Regions from separate parts of the Homo sapiens genome. Here region 2 is linked to region 1. The links come from fine-mapping of genetic effects on gene expression. Tissue or cell type: hypothalamus. Region 1 holds a variant in brackets; the other region holds the start of a gene. All regions are shown on one strand. Distances are between the middles of the regions.

The links. PIP is the estimated chance that this variant, and not a neighbour inherited with it, causes the effect.
Region 2: it holds the start of PIWIL2, and the variant in region 1 is fine-mapped to the expression of PIWIL2 in hypothalamus (GTEx, PIP above 0.99).

Annotation. Positions count from the first base shown.
Region 1 is chr8:22,308,210-22,316,209 of GRCh38, forward strand. PIWIL2 (piwi like RNA-mediated gene silencing 2) reads left to right here. Exons shown (of 23, transcript NM_018068.5): 15 at 1,752-1,865; 16 at 2,903-3,091; 17 at 6,119-6,220; 18 at 6,820-6,936. Among named protein-coding and RNA genes, the nearest start is that of PIWIL2, 37 kb to the left of the region's middle. The variant A/G (reference allele first, on the strand shown) is at 3,365.
Region 2 is chr8:22,271,107-22,280,220 of GRCh38, forward strand. It overlaps PIWIL2 (piwi like RNA-mediated gene silencing 2), which reads left to right and starts at 4,210. Exons shown (of 23, transcript NM_018068.5): 1 at 4,210-4,292; 2 at 8,235-8,478. The coding sequence starts at 8,281. PIWIL2-DT (PIWIL2 divergent transcript) reads right to left here and starts at 4,056. Exons shown (of 2, transcript NR_134293.1): 1 at 3,873-4,056. RefSeq lists an enhancer at 4,490-5,135.

The DNA.
Region 1 (8,000 bases):
TTTTGAGACAGAGTCTTATTGGGATTACAGGTATGAACCTCTGTGCGTGGTCATATTTTTCTAAGTATTTCTAATGGCTGCCTGATACTTTTTATTAACGGTTTTCTATCCTTTTACATTCAAATTGAATTTAGTATTTTTCTATTATAAATAATGATGCAGGGCAGGCGTGGTGGCTCACGCCTGTAATCCCAGCACTTTGGGAGGCTGAGGCAGGTGGATCACCTTAGGTCAGGAGTTCGAGAAGAGCCTGGCCAGCATGGTAAAACCCCATATCTACTAAAAACACAAAAATTAGCTGAGTGTCGAGGCACGAGCCTGTAATACCAGCTACTCAGGAGGCTGAGGTAGGAGAATCACTTGAACCCGGGAGGTGGAGGTTGCAGTGAGCCAAGATGGGGCCACTGCACTCTAGCCTGGGAGACAGAGGGAGAATCCATCTCAAAAAAAATTAACTAATTTAAAAAAATAACGATGCAGTGTACATCCTTACAACTGAATCTTTGTGTGTGTTATTTATTTTTTTGAGACGGATTCCAAGTGATTCTCCTGTCTCAGCCTCCCGAATAGTTGGAATTACAGGCGCACACCACCATGCCTGGCTAATTTTTGTATTTTTAGTAGAGACGGAGTTTCACCATGTTGCCATGGCTGGTCTCTCGAGCTCCTGACCTCAAATGATCCGCCTACCTTAGCCTCCCAAAGTGTTAGGAGTACAGGTGTGAGCCACCACGCTAGCCCTTGTTTATTTTCTTTTTTCTGTTTTTTTAAGATGGGGTTTCATTCTTGTTGGCCAGGCTGGAGTGTAATGGCGCAATCTCGGCTCACTGCAACCTCCACCTCCCAGGTTCAAGCGATTCTCCTGCCTCAGCTTCCCAAGTAGCTGGGATTACAAGCACGTGCCACCACGTCCGGCTAATTTTTGTATTTTTAGTAGAGACGGGGTTTCACCATCTTGGCCAGGCTGGTCTTGAACTCCTGACCTCGTGATCCACCCGCCTTGGCCTCCCAAAGTGCTGGGATTACAGGTGTTAGCCACCACACCCGGCCCCCTTGGATATTAAGTCCAATTTATGAAGGTAAAATAATTTAGGGACATTTATGTTTTTAATACTTATATTTTATTTATTTATTTAAAAAAGTTTTTTTGAGACAGAGTCTTGCCCTGTCACCCAGGCTGGAGTGCAGTGGTGTGATCTCAGCTCACTGCAGCCTCCTCCCGGATTCAAGTAAATCTCCTGCCTCTGCCTCCCAAGTAGCTGGGGACTACAGGCATGCGCCACCACACCCAGCTAATTTTTGTATTTTTAGTAGAGACAGGGTTTCACCATGTTGGCCAGGCTGGTGTCAAACTCCTGACCTCAAGTGATCTGCCCTCCTCGGCCTCCCAAAGTGCTGGGATTACAGGCGTGAGCCACGGTGCCCGGCCCCTTTAAAATATTTTTTGAAGATTGTTTTCCTTTATTCAGTCATTCTAAATAGACAATGTTTTCAAATCCCTTTCTTGGGATATCATGTGGAAGCTTCAATAATGAAAGACTAGTACCTATAATAATTTTACCTATATAAATGTAGGTTTTTATTGACAGGGACTTTCACTGCTAGAAGCTTTATTATTCTGCTAGTCTCAAAAGTTCTAACAGGGACAAGTGTCTGTGGTGGAGCTGAGCAGGCCTTATAGAGCAGTAGCAGTGTTTTTCTAAATAGCGTTTGAAAAGGCTCATGTCATAGATGGTTTATTTTCTGTTTAGATTGAAGGACGTGTTCTGCCAATGGAAAGAATTAACTTAAAAAATACTTCGTTTATCACATCTCAGGAACTAAACTGGGTTAAGGAAGTAACCAGAGACCCTTCCATCTTGACTGTAAGTGATTTTTGAAGTGATAAAGAGAGGACCAGTATTCCCCAAAGTGTGGGAATTAGGAAGCAGGAATGATCTAGAGTCTTCTTTTTTGAGGGAAAGTACCAATTGAATCCCCATTCTGAATTACCTACTAACCAGGGATCCTTCAAACAGAGCAGTTGATGAGTTGTTAGAGGTAAGCCCTTTGCCTGACCATAGACTTAGGGAAAGGAAATAAATTGCTGTGGTAATTCACATAGTGCCAACCTGTTACCCACTCTCCCTTCTTTCTTTCTCTTTTCCCCCTCTTTTTCCCCGGGAGTATCTAGAGGGTATTTGTATCCGTGAAAGAAGTTAGATTAAAACAGTACCTCACCTAGGGAACTAATAATACACTAGCTATTTGTATCAAGGTACAAAATGGCATATAATTACTTCTCAGTGTTTTTGACCAACATGGACTTCATGGCCAGATATATAAAAACAGATATATAAAATGCATGTTTTTAAATGTTTTATTGAAATATAAACGAAAAGCACACTTATAAACGTGTAACTTGATGAGTTTTTTTTTAATTAAATAGACCTGTGTAATCCACACCAAGGGTTAAGATGCAGAACTTTACCAGCACTCCAGAAGCCCCCTCCATTCTCCCAGTTCCTGCCTATCCCTTACCCCTCACACACCCAGTATAGCCACTGTCCTGACTTTTCACAGCACAGATTGATTTTACCAATTTCTGTACTTTACATATACATGGAATCATAGATTATATATTCTTCTGTGTCTGGCTTCTTTTCTTAAATTTGTGTTAGTGAGTTTCATCCTGTTGTTAGGCATGGTTGTTGCTCTTCCATTCTCATTACTGTATAACATTCCATTTTGAGACTACGCCACAGTTTTCTTATCATGTACGTTCATGTTAATACAGGAGTTAGATAAGACAGGATTCAAGCAATGAGAGTGAAAAGTAATTTATTCTCTAGAATGAAATCTTAAGTATGAGTTTGGGATATTTAAATTGTGAGAAATACTAAAAGCTCTTGGTTGTTCCTAGATCCCCATGCATTTCTGGGCACTTTTTTACCCAAAGAGAGCAATGGACCAGGCTCGAGAACTGGTCAACATGTTGGAGAAGATAGCCGGCCCCATTGGCATGCGTATGAGCCCACCGGCCTGGGTTGAACTAAAGGATGACCGAATAGAGACTTATGTCAGAACCATTCAATCCACGTTAGGAGCTGAGGTAAAAATGTAATTCAAATAAATTTATAGGATGTCCATTTTAAATTACTTAAATACTTAATTTTAATGTATCATGGTTATCAGTCTGCTGTTGATGATGCCCTAGAACTTGTCTTACCCATGCGCACATGAAATACTGATTGAAAAGTGTTCTTTATGCCCTTTGGTTAATTTTGCTTCTCTCACTCTGTGTTGGCACCCTCACTTACTCTAGTCTTCTTTTTCTTACGTAACTGGCTGAGAGAATAGCTGACTTAACTGTGGTTCATTATCT[A/G]TAGAACATGTTGTGCTCAGAAAGCAGCAGCTTGGGTTAGGTGCCGTCTTGCACGATTCACTACTGAGCTGCCTCAGTCCGGCCTGGTTCAAGATTAAAATTACTCTGGTGATGAACTTGGCAGATGGCCCATTGATTGGGTCCTGATGACTGATCAGGAACACTAGAGCTGGCCAGGTCATAGCACTCACAACTTAGTTATTCAGGCTTTTCAGTTCTTACCTGTTTGTAAATAAAATCGAACAAGAGGAATAGGGAGAGAAAAAAGCAAGGGGAAGGCTTTTGGAAGTAATTAGCCCTTGAATTGAACATTCTGGTAAATTGTTCTGGTGAGTTCAATCCTAGAATTCAATCATCTTGGCATCATAGAGTTCTTTTTTTAAATTTTTTTTTGAGAGATTGGGTCAGCTGGGCGCACAGTGGCTCACGCCTGGAATTCCAGCACGTTGGGATGCTGAGGTGGGCGGGTTGCTTGAGCCCAGGAGTTTGAGACCAGCCTGGGCAACCTGGCAAAACCCTGTCTCTACAAAAAATCTAAACATTAGCTGGGTGTGGTGGCATGCACCTGTAGTACCAGCTACTCAGGAGGCTGAGGTGGGAGAATCACCTGAGCCTGGGGAGGTTGAGGCTGCAGTGAGCTATGATCATGCCACTTTACTCCAACCTGGGCAACAGAGTGAGACCTTTTCTCCAAAAAAAAAAAAAAAAATGAGATAGGATTTTACTCTGTCACCCATGTGGAGTACACTGGTGCGATCTTAGCTCATTGTTGCCTCAAACTCCTGGGCTCAAGCAATCCTTCCGCCTCAGCCTTCCAAGTAGCTGGAACTACAGGCGTGGGCCATCACACCTGGCTAATTAAAAAAAAAAATTATAGAGGTAGGGTTTCACTATGTTGCCCAGGCTGGTCTCGAGCTTCTGGCCCCAAGTGATCCTGCTGCCTCAACCTCCCAAAGCAGTGAGATTACAGGCGTGAGTCACCATGCCCAGCAGCATTCTGTTTTTGATCTGGCACTCTTGGTGTATCATTCACAACAGCACACTTGTGTTCTTTCTTTGGTGTGTTTCTCTCTCTCTTTTTTTAGACACAAAGTCTTGACTCTGTTGCTCAGGCTAAAGTACAGTGGCATGATCATAGCTGACTGTAACATGAAACTTGAGGGCCCAAGGGATCCTCCTGCCTCAGCCTTCTGAGTAGCTGTAACTGTACACGTGCACCACCACTCCTGGCTAATTTTTAAATTTTTTGTAGAGATGGGGTCTCCTTCTGTTGCCCAGGCTGATCTCAAACTCCCAGCCTCAATCAGTCCTCCCACCTCCACCTCCCAAAGTGCTGGGATTACAGGTGTGAGCCACTGCACCCAGCCTGTGCATTCTCTATAATTCCATCCTGATCTACCATGCCTGTCATACTCTACCATGGCCTCCCTCAGACCTGATCATAGATAAGTTCTGCTCTGCTTTCAAAAGAATAACCCAGCCCAGTACATCAGCTCCCCCATTTCACAACTTGTGTTCCCTTTTTGAGAGGGTACAACTGACAGTTTTCATGTGGCATGGATGTGAATTTCATTCATATCGCTTACCAACTTATCTCATAGCGGCCTTGCTCTGTCTGTTCATCTTTAAGGCATTCCATTATCATCTCTATGAGGAATCACAAACTCGTATGTCTCCAGGAGCCTGATAAGGAGTATAAATGAGTGAAGTGGGCCAGGAGGGGAGTGAAATGAACTAAAGAGGGTAACTCCTGTGACTGGAGATATAAACCCAGGATTGCCAAAATGATTCTTAATGTGCTTGTTTGTTGGTAAAGGCCAAAAACCTGGAATTGCATATGTGTGTATCTTCCTATGTTTAAATGTTAATTTAAACAAACATAAACACTTTTAAGTCATTGTAGGGCCTGAAAAAACGCACCTGTTTGCTGTGTCCAGTCCATAGGCTCCCAGTGCGCAGCTCTGTTCTCATGCCTTTGGAAATGCTTGGTGTCGTTGCTCAATGTGTCCTCTGAACAGTCTTAACATTACACCAATCTTGATTTGGAGTAGGGTACCACTGATTTACCATTTGTAGCAGTTTCTGGCTTAAAGGGTTGGCAACCTTCTTTCACTTGAGTGCTGCTTTTCTTTATTCAGGCTTTGAAAGGTCCTCTTTTTTCAATATTGGATTCCTTCAGCAGTGAGGAATAGATGATACTGACATGCTGTGCTGCTGACAATATCATTCTGTCTCTTCACCAGAGTTAGGAGTGGCTGCTCATGAATTTGGCAATAGCTTCATTCCAGTTTGCATTTAGTTCTGAATGCTTTCTTGTAGTATTGCATTCCCTGTTTCCTTGGTTAAAGTTCTGTGGTATGAGTGTAATAAGTTGTTTAGTAAACCAAAGAGAGTAGTAAAAAACATTATACTGAATTGGAAGCAGCAAGTAATGTAAACCTTGCATGCATTCAAACCTGGTCCTTTTCCAGCCATCTGAGTCTTCTAATAGATAAATCTTTTGGTAATCAGGGCCAGCTCTGGGTAATTAATAGTAACATATTACCTATCTATACAGAACAGCCCTGAGCCAAAGAATGCTAATTCAGCTCCAAGGACCTTGTTCTGGTTGGAATGTCCACCCTCTTTATTTCAGTTCCCTGTCTTCCTTAAAGGTCCTATGGCTTTGCATACTCAGAATACTGCCAACTAGAGTCCTGTAAAAGTCCCCAGAGAATTCCACAGCCTGACTTGTATATACCTTATCTCCTCAAGGGGAAGATACAGATGGTTGTTTGCATCATCATGGGCCCACGTGATGATCTCTATGGGGCCATCAAGAAGCTGTGCTGTGTGCAGTCCCCAGTGCCCTCCCAGGTGAGTGGGTGTTGGGGCAGGAGGCGCAGATGGCACCTCTCGCCTCCCCGAGGCTTGAGAAGAGGGATATGTGTGTTCACAAAGACTAAAGTAGCTGTTAGAAGCCAGTATGTGCTGAGCCTTCTGGTGAAAGGTTCTCCTGATTAGAGCAACCTGGCAAAGAGTAGATTGCTCTTCATAAGCTGCCCTCATGCTTCCAAATGAACAGTTTCGCTTGTTCCGAGGTTGAGTCACCAGGTGGTTTCATGTGACTGAGTTCTGAGAGTGAATATAGGCTTCATTCTGAAAGGGGAAAGCTATTTTTCCTATGGGAGTTAAAAAAGCATTCCACTCTGCGTGAGATCCTTTTGAAAGTTTTCATTTGTTGGTTTTATTTTGTTTTGGGTTTGTGGTGTGTGTGTATGTGTGTGTGTGTGTGTTGTATTTTGCCCATGTGCATGCATGCCTAGAAACCCTAGAATTAGAATTATTAATGCGAAATGTGTTATCTTCTAACTTGAGTTTCTTAAACAAATGTAATGTTTACTTTAGAGTTCAGATTTTCTGAGAGGTTGATAGTGACCTGCTTCTCCTGACACCTTTTGGTCCCTTCATTATAGGTTGTCAATGTTCGAACCATTGGTCAGCCCACCAGGCTTCGGAGTGTGGCCCAGAAGATTTTACTTCAGATTAACTGTAAATTGGGTGGTGAGCTCTGGGGAGTGGATATTCCTCTGGTGAGTGATGCCGAGATGGTTCAGTTTGCCTCTCCAGAGAATCCTCCAAGCTGTTTTCCTGTTTTTCCTTATTCGTTATGCTTCCTCTTCTCAACACTTACTCAGTAGTCTAAATGGCTCCCTGCCTCTTCAGCCCATTATCTAAGAATGGGTTTTATGTTTGTTTGTTTTTTGTTTTTTGTGTTTTTGAGACGGATTCTTGTTCTTGTCGCCCAGGTTGGAGTGCGATGGCACGATCTTGGCTCACTGCAACGTCCACCTCCCAGGTTCAAGCAATTCTCCTGCCTCAGCCTCCTGAGTAGCTGGGATTACAGGTGCCCGCCACCATACCCAGCTAATTTTTGTATTTTTAGTACAGATGGGATTTCACCATGTTGGCCAGGCTGGTCTCAAACTCCTGACCTGGTGATCTGCCCACCTCAGCCTTCCAAAATGCTGGGATTACAGGTGTGAGCCACCATGCCCAACCTGGTTTTTATGTTTTTAAATGGCGGAAAAAATAAAACTAAGATGATTATTCCGTGACACATGAAAATTATATGAAGTGAGTTTTCAGTGTCTTTAAATAAAATTTCACTGGAATACAGCCATACTCCTTTTCATACTGTCCATGACTGCTTTTGTGTTAAGCAGATAGAATTAAATAAAGGTCAAGTATGCTTTTTCTGAAATACTTGGGACCAGAAGCATTTTGGATTTTAGATTTCTGGGGGTTTGGGTTCATTTGCTTGCATCCCAAATTCAAAAATCTGCAATCTGAAACACTCCAAAATCTGAAACTCTTTGAGTGTCATGTCGGTGCTCAAAAGCTTTTCAGATTTGGGAATGCTCAACCTGTGTTTTCTACAGAAATCATAAGACTCACAAAGCCTAAGTTATTTACCCTTTAGTCCTTTGCTGATCCCTGATCTAGATCTTAACTGTGCTTATTGTGTTTAAAAAATGTCAAGTTGATTGTCTTTTTTTTTTCTTTCCCAGAACTTACTTTCATGTATAAACAGTAAGGGGAGGTTGCTTTGGGATTCAGACAGTAATTAAAAATGGAGGAATGCATTGCTCAGGTC
Region 2 (9,114 bases), 37 kb before region 1:
GGCATGAGCCACCGTGCCCGGCCTCCTTTTTTTTTTTAACGCATCCCCATTGTTAAGCATACAAATTTCTGTTTATTCATTTACCAGTTGATGGACATTTAGGTGAAGTTTTTGGCAATTATCAATAATGCTGCTATGAACATTTGCATGCAAGTTTTGTGTGGACATGTTTTCATTTTTCTTAGGTAGCTACCAAGAAGTGAAATTTTGGTTCCTACAGTAATTTTTTTCTTAACTTTTTGAGAAACTGCCAAATGTTTCCCAAAGAGGCTGCATCATTTTACATTCCCACTGGCAATGTCTGAGGGTTCCTGTTCCACCACATCCTTGCTGACTTCTGTTATTCTATTAGTCAGACAGGCCTGCCATAACAAATTGCCACAGACTGGGTGGCCTCAGCAACACACATTTGTTTTCTCACAGCTCTGGAGACTATGATTCTATGATCAAGGTGCTGGCAAATTTGATTTCTGGTGAGTACCATCTCCCTAGTTTATAGATGGCCGCCATCTTGCTGTGTCCTCACATGGCCTTGTCTCTGTGCTTCCATGAAGAGAGAGGGATAGAGATAGAGAAAGATCTCATGTCTTTCTCTTCTGATAAGGACACAAATCCTATCAGATTAGAGCTCCTCCTTACCTCATTTATGTTAATTATCTCCCTACATACTTTATCTCCAAATACAGGGGATTAGGGCTTCAACATAGGTTTTGCAAGGAGGACACAATTCACTCCCTAACATTCCTCCCTCTGTCCCCCGCAAATTCATGTTCTTCTCACATGCAACACATTCGCCCCATCCTAACAGCCCCCAAAGTCTTACACCGTTTCAGTATCAATTGCAAGTCTAAGATCTCATCTAAATACAATAGGCCCTCCCTATCCACGGGTTCTGCATCCATGGATTAAACCAACCACAAATCAAAAATATTTGGAAAAAACAAAAAGGATGGCTGCATCAGTACTGAACAGGTGCAGACTTTTTTCTTGTAATTATTCCCTAAACAATACAGTGTAACAACTATTTATGTAGCATTTACACTGTATTTGGTATTATAATTCATCTAGAGACAATTTAAAGTATACAGGGAAATGTGCATAGGTTATATGCAAATATAAAATACACCATTTTATATAAGAGACTTGAGCATCTGTGAATTTTGGTATCCATGGAGGGAGGTCCTAAAAACCAATACTCTGCAGATACTGAAGGACAAATTCCATTAAATTTTACGGCTCCAGTCAGGGGTGGTGGCTCACACCCATAAGCCACTGAGTTCAAGACCAGCCTGGGCAATATGGTGAAACCCTGTCTCTACTAAAGGGCTTATTAGTTCCAACAAGAGCTGGTTGTTAAAAAGAACCTAGCGCTTCCCTCCCCTCTCTTGCTTCCTCTCTCTCCATGTAATCTCTGCACAGGCCGGGTCTCTTTGCCTTCTGCCATGAGTGGAAGCACCCTGAGGTCCTCACCAGGTGTCCAGTCTTGAACCTTCCAGCCAGCATAACCATGAGCTCGATAAACCTCTTTTCTTTATAAATTACCCAGCCTCAGGTATTCCTTTATAGTAACACTAAAGGGACTAATGGACTGACACAGGTCCACTCACATCTTTTGGCCCCCCCCCCTTTTTTTTTGAGAGAGAGTTTTGCACTTGTTGCCCAGGCTGGAGTGCAGTGGCGTGATCTCAGCTCACTGTAACCTCCGCCTCCCGGGTTCAAGTGATTCTCCTGCCTCAGCCTCACGAGTAGCTGGGATTACAGGCACCACACCAACATGCCTGGCTAATTTTTATGTTTTTAGTAGAGACAGCATTTCACCATGTTGGCCAGGCTGGTCTCGAACTCCTGACCTCAGGCCATCTGCCCACATTGGCCTCCTAAAGTGCTGGGATTACAGATGTGAGCCACCATACCTTTTGCCCATTTTTTTATTAGATTGTGTGTCCTCCTGTTATTCGGCCTGATGTGTTTCGTGAGCTCATATTTATTCATACCTTTTACGTGGGAGTTTTGGGAGCCTGGTGTATTTCTCCTGAAAGGATTTCTAGTTATCTCTGCCAGGAACCCAGACATACTACATAGGTCTACTTTAAATGAAATCCTTCCTATAGGTTTTAGGCCCCACCAGTAATGTAATTTTCTGCCCTTAATCTTGCTGTGGCTCTGGGGATCTTATTTTCTGAACAGCAGCAACAACAACAACAACAAACCAGAATACATGGTTGGAATAGAAATATTTATGGTGACCAAGTGCCCAGGGTATTTGGAGTCATGACTGCCTAGGAAAATTCAGGTTATGTATAGTTATGGGGCCATTTTCACTCTGAATTTTAGAGACTGGCAGGGCCAGGTGGACAGAATTTGGTGTTACGACTTTTTTGAGTTAAAAAAAAAATCTGTGATTTATCTCAAAATACTATCTCTTAGTGTGATATACGTGCTCTTTTTGCCCCTTTCATTTTTAATTAACAAATAGCAATTACATATGGTTATGTGGTACAGTATGATATTCTGATATTTATTTACATTGTGGAATGATTAAACCAAATTAACATATCCATCACCTCACATACTCATCTTTTTGTGATGAGATTATGTGTGTCCTTTTTAATCAATATCCTAGGGATGGCTAATTAACAATTAAAGTACTCTGTTAGGGAATATAATCTCCAAAAGAGGTTGATTAGCTTTTGAAAGGTCCTAAATAGATGTCCACGTTTCAGAAAGCTTCAACCATTTTTATGTCCAATCAACAGCAGGACTATATGGATTTTCCTTTGGTTAAATAAGTAGTGTTAATGATGTCTGGATTAGCTAGAAATACTGTACGAAGGCCACCTACACTTGCATGGATGGACAGGATATAGAAATCTAGGAAACCCAATGTGCATACCCTTTGTAATGGTGCTCTTGGTTTAGGTTCCCAAATAGAAGACATACTCAGGAAATTATCTGAGGATTATTATTCCCTTACTTCAACTAGAAGATTTGCTGAATCCTGCCCCCAAAATATTGTTTCATGTGTATAGAATAAGTGTGTCATGCAAAGTTTGGTCGGAGTTCCTAAAAGAACAAGGAGTTGGATCTTCACGAAAGTTACAAAACAGTTTGTATAACTGTTTTTGACTGCACTTGCTACCATTAAGTATTTGCACAGGCAGGAGAATTGCTTACAACATAACATTGCAACAGCTGCAAGTTAAGAAGGTTGTGTGGTAAAGGAAGTGAAAATGTTAGATCATGGTAAACAAATACTATCTAGGAACAGTGAAGGGGCATCGTGCCAACTGGATTCCTGAGTTGAAAATCATCCTGCTCCAATAATTTTCAGACTATCCTCATTCGGGAAGGATAGGGAGGGCCCTTGTATGTGTGGATTAAAATAAGTCATGGGATATCTGAGGCCTGGAAAAAATAAGGTTAACCCTTCTCTAGTCCTATTCCATGCAGAGCCCTTGGATGTCTCTATAGCATCCGCCAAAGCCTTCAGAAGCTTTACCTCAACCACACTGTAAAACCTGGGTGTGGGAGAGGGATGCAGTTATTTGACAAAATGGTTGGGAGAGGGTCAGAAATCTTTCTTTGGGTAAAATCATTCTGTAGTTGCTGAAGTAACCACTGATAATTTAATCTGCTTCCTAGAAAGCTCTTCTTGGCTCACAGATTTAGGCATCAATAAAAATAGGCAACATTTATCGAGGGTCGTCTTCTCCTTGTGCTAAGTATTTTACATACGTTATGTCATTATGTGTGTACATTTCCATTCAACCCTATGAATGGATGTTTTTAGTTTTTATCTCTGTTTTATGTATAACGAAAGTGATGTGCAGAAATCATATGAATTAGGTGTTTGAATGCGCACTCGAGCTTACCGTTTCTTTTTCACCACCTGTATCGCTAATCCTCTTAACTGGCAGGAATGGGGCAAGTCAATTTCAACACGCGAGTCTTAGGCTAAATCTGTTTATAGGAGTTGCCCCCAGAAAGGGAGTCAGGATCTCCAAACCCTAACACATTTTAACGCTGAGGTTCACATAACTCCCAGCGCTCCTTCCGCACGAACCGCCCCTGCACAGGGAACCTGCTGGAAAGGACGAGCCTCTCTTGCAGATGGGCCAATTAGATAGCTTGCTCTTGTGAACGACAGGTCTTGTGGCCAATGGGCTCATCCCCGGAGGCCTCGAAGAGCGGAAATTGGCCCTGGAGCATGTGGGCCCCGGGGCGTGGGTTGAGCTCGGTCTTCCCCTGAGGCCGCGCGGAGCTGGGCGACTGGGGCGAGGACTCGCGCACAGGTGAGTACTGGCCCCGGTTGCGGCATGCCAGGCAGGCCAGGGTCGCTCGGGGGCGGGCAGGTTGGGTTTTTGCTCAAGCACGTGGGGTGAGCCGCCCTCCCGGGCCTCTCCCCTCCCACTTCGGGGAGCTGCTGAGGGTTGCGGGTCGGGCGGGGGCGGGAAGTCGTTATTCGAGGCCCGGCGCCGCGGCCCCAAGAAGGTGTCCAGGTTGGGGCGGCAGGGGAGGCCCTCCGGAGGCCCAAGTGGACGTCTTATTTGGCCTGAGAGAGGAGATAGAACCCCTGGCAGGGCTGTGGCTTTGGGGAAAGGTGCTTTTCTCGGGGTGGAAAGGGGATGGGACTCGCCTTCGGGGGCCTTGCTTCTGGTTAGGCCCGAGTCGCGAGGCCTCAGCGCGGAGCACGCACCCAGGGATGCGAGGGAGGCAGGCCCAGCCCGTCCTGGGTTCGCTCCCCATTGAACCTTTCGGACAGCCAAGTATCTGCTACCTGATCCCAGGGGGAAACCCACACTGGGAGAGGGCCCTCTGGGGGAGCTACCTGAATCTATAGAAGTGGTGCTGGAGGTTGAGGGAAGCGTGGACAAAGAGGAAGATTCCAGATGTCCCTTAAGGGAGGCCGTCCAGCGCTTCTGAGTATGTAGCTGTTAGCATACTGATTGCTTGGGATTCTTTGGGTGGTGTTGGGGAGGTGTGAGCAGAGTCCTGGCTCACCGAAAAGGGGTGTTAGCAGTTAAATATAGCCTTCAAGAAAGGGAGTCATATCCTGCGTTTAGAGTGTGAAAGAGGATAGTTTAGTTCAATAAATTTTGCAAGTTCCTGAACTGTCTGCACTTACGCTGTGGGTTTATGAATTGTGTGTTAATATTTTCTTTAAATGTATGATTTCTCTGTAGCTAATACTTAAGACAGCTTTTTTGTTTGTTTGTTTGTTTGTTTTGAGACGGAGTCTCGCTCCGTAGCGCAGGCTGGAGTGCAGTGGCGTGATCTCTGCTCACTGCAACCTCCGCCTCCCAGGTTCAAGCGATTCTCCTGCCTCTGCCTCCCGAGTAGCTGGGATTACAGGCGCAGGCCACCATGCCCAGCTAATTTTTGTATTTTTAGTAGAGATGAGGGTTCACCATTTTGGTCAGGCTGGTCTCGAACCCCTGACCTTGTGATCTGCCCACCTTGGCCTTCCAGAGTGCTGGGATTACAGGCGCGAGCCACCACCCCCGGCCAAGACAGCTTTTTGAAAGTTAAGAAGAGGCTTCTCCCAGCATTTGGGGAGTCTGAGGTGAGAGGATCACTTGAGGTCAGCAGTTTGAGACCAGCCTGGGCAACATGGCAAGATCCCGTCTCTACAAATTTTTTTTAAAAATTAGCTGGGTATGGTGGCAGGTGCCTGAAGTCCTAGCTACTTGGGAGGCTGAGACAAGAGGACTGCTTGAGCACAGGAGGTTGAGACTGCAGTGAGCTAAGATGCCACCACTTCACTGTAGCCTGGATGACAGAACAAGACCCTGTCTCTTAAAAAAAAAAAATTCTTTTCCGTTAAGAAATATTTTTCAGGAATCAGGGGCAAGTCAGGACAATGAGAGGAGCCCCTTAAAGAGGGAGTCTTGAAATCTGTAGGTTATAAAGTGATATATATATATATATTTTTTTTTTTGAGACAGAATCTTGTGCTGTCACCCAGGCTGGAGTGCCACGATCTTGACTCACTGCAACCTCCGCCTCCTGGGTTCAAGCAATTCTTGTGCCTCAGACTCCTGAGGAGGGGGGATTACAGGCATGCACCACCATGCCTGGCTAATTTTTGTATTTTTAGTAAAGACAGGGTTTCATCATGTTTGCCACGCTGCTCTTGAGCTCCTGATCTCAAGTGATCCACCCGCCTCGGCCTCCCAAAGTGCTGTGATTACAGGCATGGGCCACCATGCCCGACCTACAGGTTATGAAGTGATTTTGAAGAGACCTGATGGGCTTTAGATTTGGTAGGGAAGCCAGGGAGAGCCTCACCCCGGGTAACCTGGGAGAGAGAAGGGTGTTAAATGCAACCTGTGAGACTGAGCAAGTATTGTAGGCTCAAAGCAGAAAGACTGTGTACTCTGGAGACTTCTGATGGAGTTTGAAAGAAGAGAGTTTTTAAAATTTTTTTTTCTATTTTTTAATTATTTGTAGAGACAGGGTCTCGTTGTGTTCCTAAGACTGGCCTCAAACTCCTGGCCTCAATGGTCCTCCCACCTGGGCCTCCCAGAGTGCTGGGATTACAGGCATGAACCACTGTGTGTGTGTGCTCAGCCTGAAGGAAGAATTTTGTAAAAAAGAATTGGATAGAGATTCGGAGAAGCAGCTAAACAGATCAAGGAAGAGAATTTGGTGCAATCATAGACTGGAAAAAAGTTAGGACTCTTATGTAGGAAAGAGAGGCCAAAAACAAAGCAAAAACCCATAAATATTTGTTGACAATAATTTTATGATATGGCTGTGTTAACTATGAAATTGTTTATAGGCCAGGCACAGTGGCTCACACCTGTAATCCCAGCACTTTGGGAGGCCCAGGTGGGCTGATCGCCTGAGGTCGGGAGTTCGAGACCAGCCTGACCAACATAGAGAAACCCCGTCTCTATTAAAAATACAAAATTAGCCGAGCATGGTGCTGCATGCCTGTAATCCCAGCTACTCGGGACGCTGAGGCAGGAGAATCACTTGAACCCAGGAGGCAGAGGTTGCGGTGAGCCAAGATTGCACCATTGCACTCCAGCCTTGGCAATAAGAGTGAAACTCCGTCTAAAAAAAAAAGGGGGGGAGGAAAAGAAATTGTTTATAAACCAAAGTCATCCTCATACATAAAAACTGCCTTAGCCAGGTGCAGTGGCTCACACCTATTATCCCAGCATTTTGGGATGCTGAGGCAGCAGATCTCTTGAGCCCAGGTGTTTGAGACCAGCCTTGGCAACGTGGCAAGACCCCGTCTGTACAAAAAATGTACAAATTAGCTGGGTGTTGTGGTGCATGCCTGTAGTCCCAGCTACTCAGGAGACTGAGATGTGAGGGTCACTTGAGCCCAGGAGGTCAAGGCTGCAGTGAGCCATGATCATGCCACTGCACTCCAGCCTGGGCGACAGAAGGAGACCCTCCTAAAAAACTGCTTCCTTATACAACAGCTAGTTAACTCACAGGACTGAGTTTTGTGAGAGGCTATTTGGGTAGAAAATATAAGTAAGTTCAAGGAGGACACGGGCCTCTAAGGCAGGGGTTCCCAACCCCCAGGCCACAGGCTGGTTGGGGGGCCTGTTAGGAACTGGGCTGCACAGCAGGAGGTGAGAGATTGGCAAATGAGCAAAGCTTCATCTGTATTGACAGCTGCTCCCCATGGCTTGTAGTATCACCTGAGCTCTGCCTCCTGTCGGATCACTGGTGGCATTAGATTCTCATTGTGCAAACCCTCTTGTGAACTTCGCATTGGAGGGATCTAGGTTGCATCCTCCTTATGAGAATCTAATGCCTGATGATCTGTCACTGTCTCCCATCACCCACAGATGGGACCAGCTAGTTGCAGGAAAACAAGATCAGGGCTCCCACTGATTCTACATTATGGTGAATTGTATAATTATTATATTTCATTATCTATTATAATGTAATAATAGAAATAAAGTACACAATAAATGTAATGTATTTGAGTCACTCTGAAACCATCCCCCCACCCCTGGGTCCATGGAAAAATTATCTTCCAGGAAACCAGTCTCTGGTGCCAAAAAGGTTGGGGACCACTGCTCTGAGGGATTGTTAATGAAGGATGTTTAGAATATTACAGATCAAATAGAAGCCTTTGAAGTGAATATGTTGTAGAAGGCTAGGCGTGTTACTGGACTGACTCAAAATACTATTTTAATGCTTTGTGAGTGTGTCTTGAAGGAAAAGGAAAACAATTGGGAATCTTAATCTTTTGAAAATGATGGCAGGTAATTAACCAGAACAGGATCGACACGTGTTCTCTACAGCCCGTCCATGGATCCTTTCCGACCATCGTTCAGGGGCCAGTCTCCTATCCACCCATCCCAGTGCCAGGCTGTACGGATGCCAGGCTGTTGGCCACAAGCTTCTAAACCTTTGGACCCAGCTCTGGGCAGGGGAGCACCTGCAGGCAGAGGCCATGTATTTGGAAAGCCAGAGGAACCAAGCACACAGAGGGGGCCAGCACAAAGGGTAAGACCACTTCCGGATGCATAGGAGTGGCATACAGCTTACCTGTGTGCCGTCAGAGGAAGTAATGGATTTCAAAGTGCTTGCAGGGCTGGGCACGGTGGCTCACGCCTGTAATCCCAGCACTTTGGGAGGCCGAGGCAGGTGGATCATCTGAGGTCGGGAGTTCAAGACCAGCCTGGCCAACCAACATGGTGAAACCCTGTCTCTACTGAAAATACAAAAATTAGCCAGGTGTGGTGGCGGGTACCTGTAATCCCAGCTACTCAGGAAGCTAAGGCAGGATAATTGCTTGAACCGTGGAGGCGGAGGTTGCGGTGAGCTGAGATCTCGCCAGTGCACTCCAGCCTGGGCAACAGAGCGAGACTCCATCTCAAACAATGACAACAAAGTGCTTGCAAAACTGGGAAGCCCTAAACAGAAACAAGGTTGTCTTTTTTTTTCTTTAACAAGTAGATACATCTGGGCAAATATTTCAAATCTAGAGTTTCTAGAGGTATGAAGAAGTACCTCATAATGAGCGCTAGATGGACTTGGTAAGTACCATAGGTCCTCTAGCTTCCGATCATCCCTCCATCCCTCCATCTGTAATTGTTAGGTCTAAAGGTACAATCTCTTGTTGTTTTCTGAATATTTAGA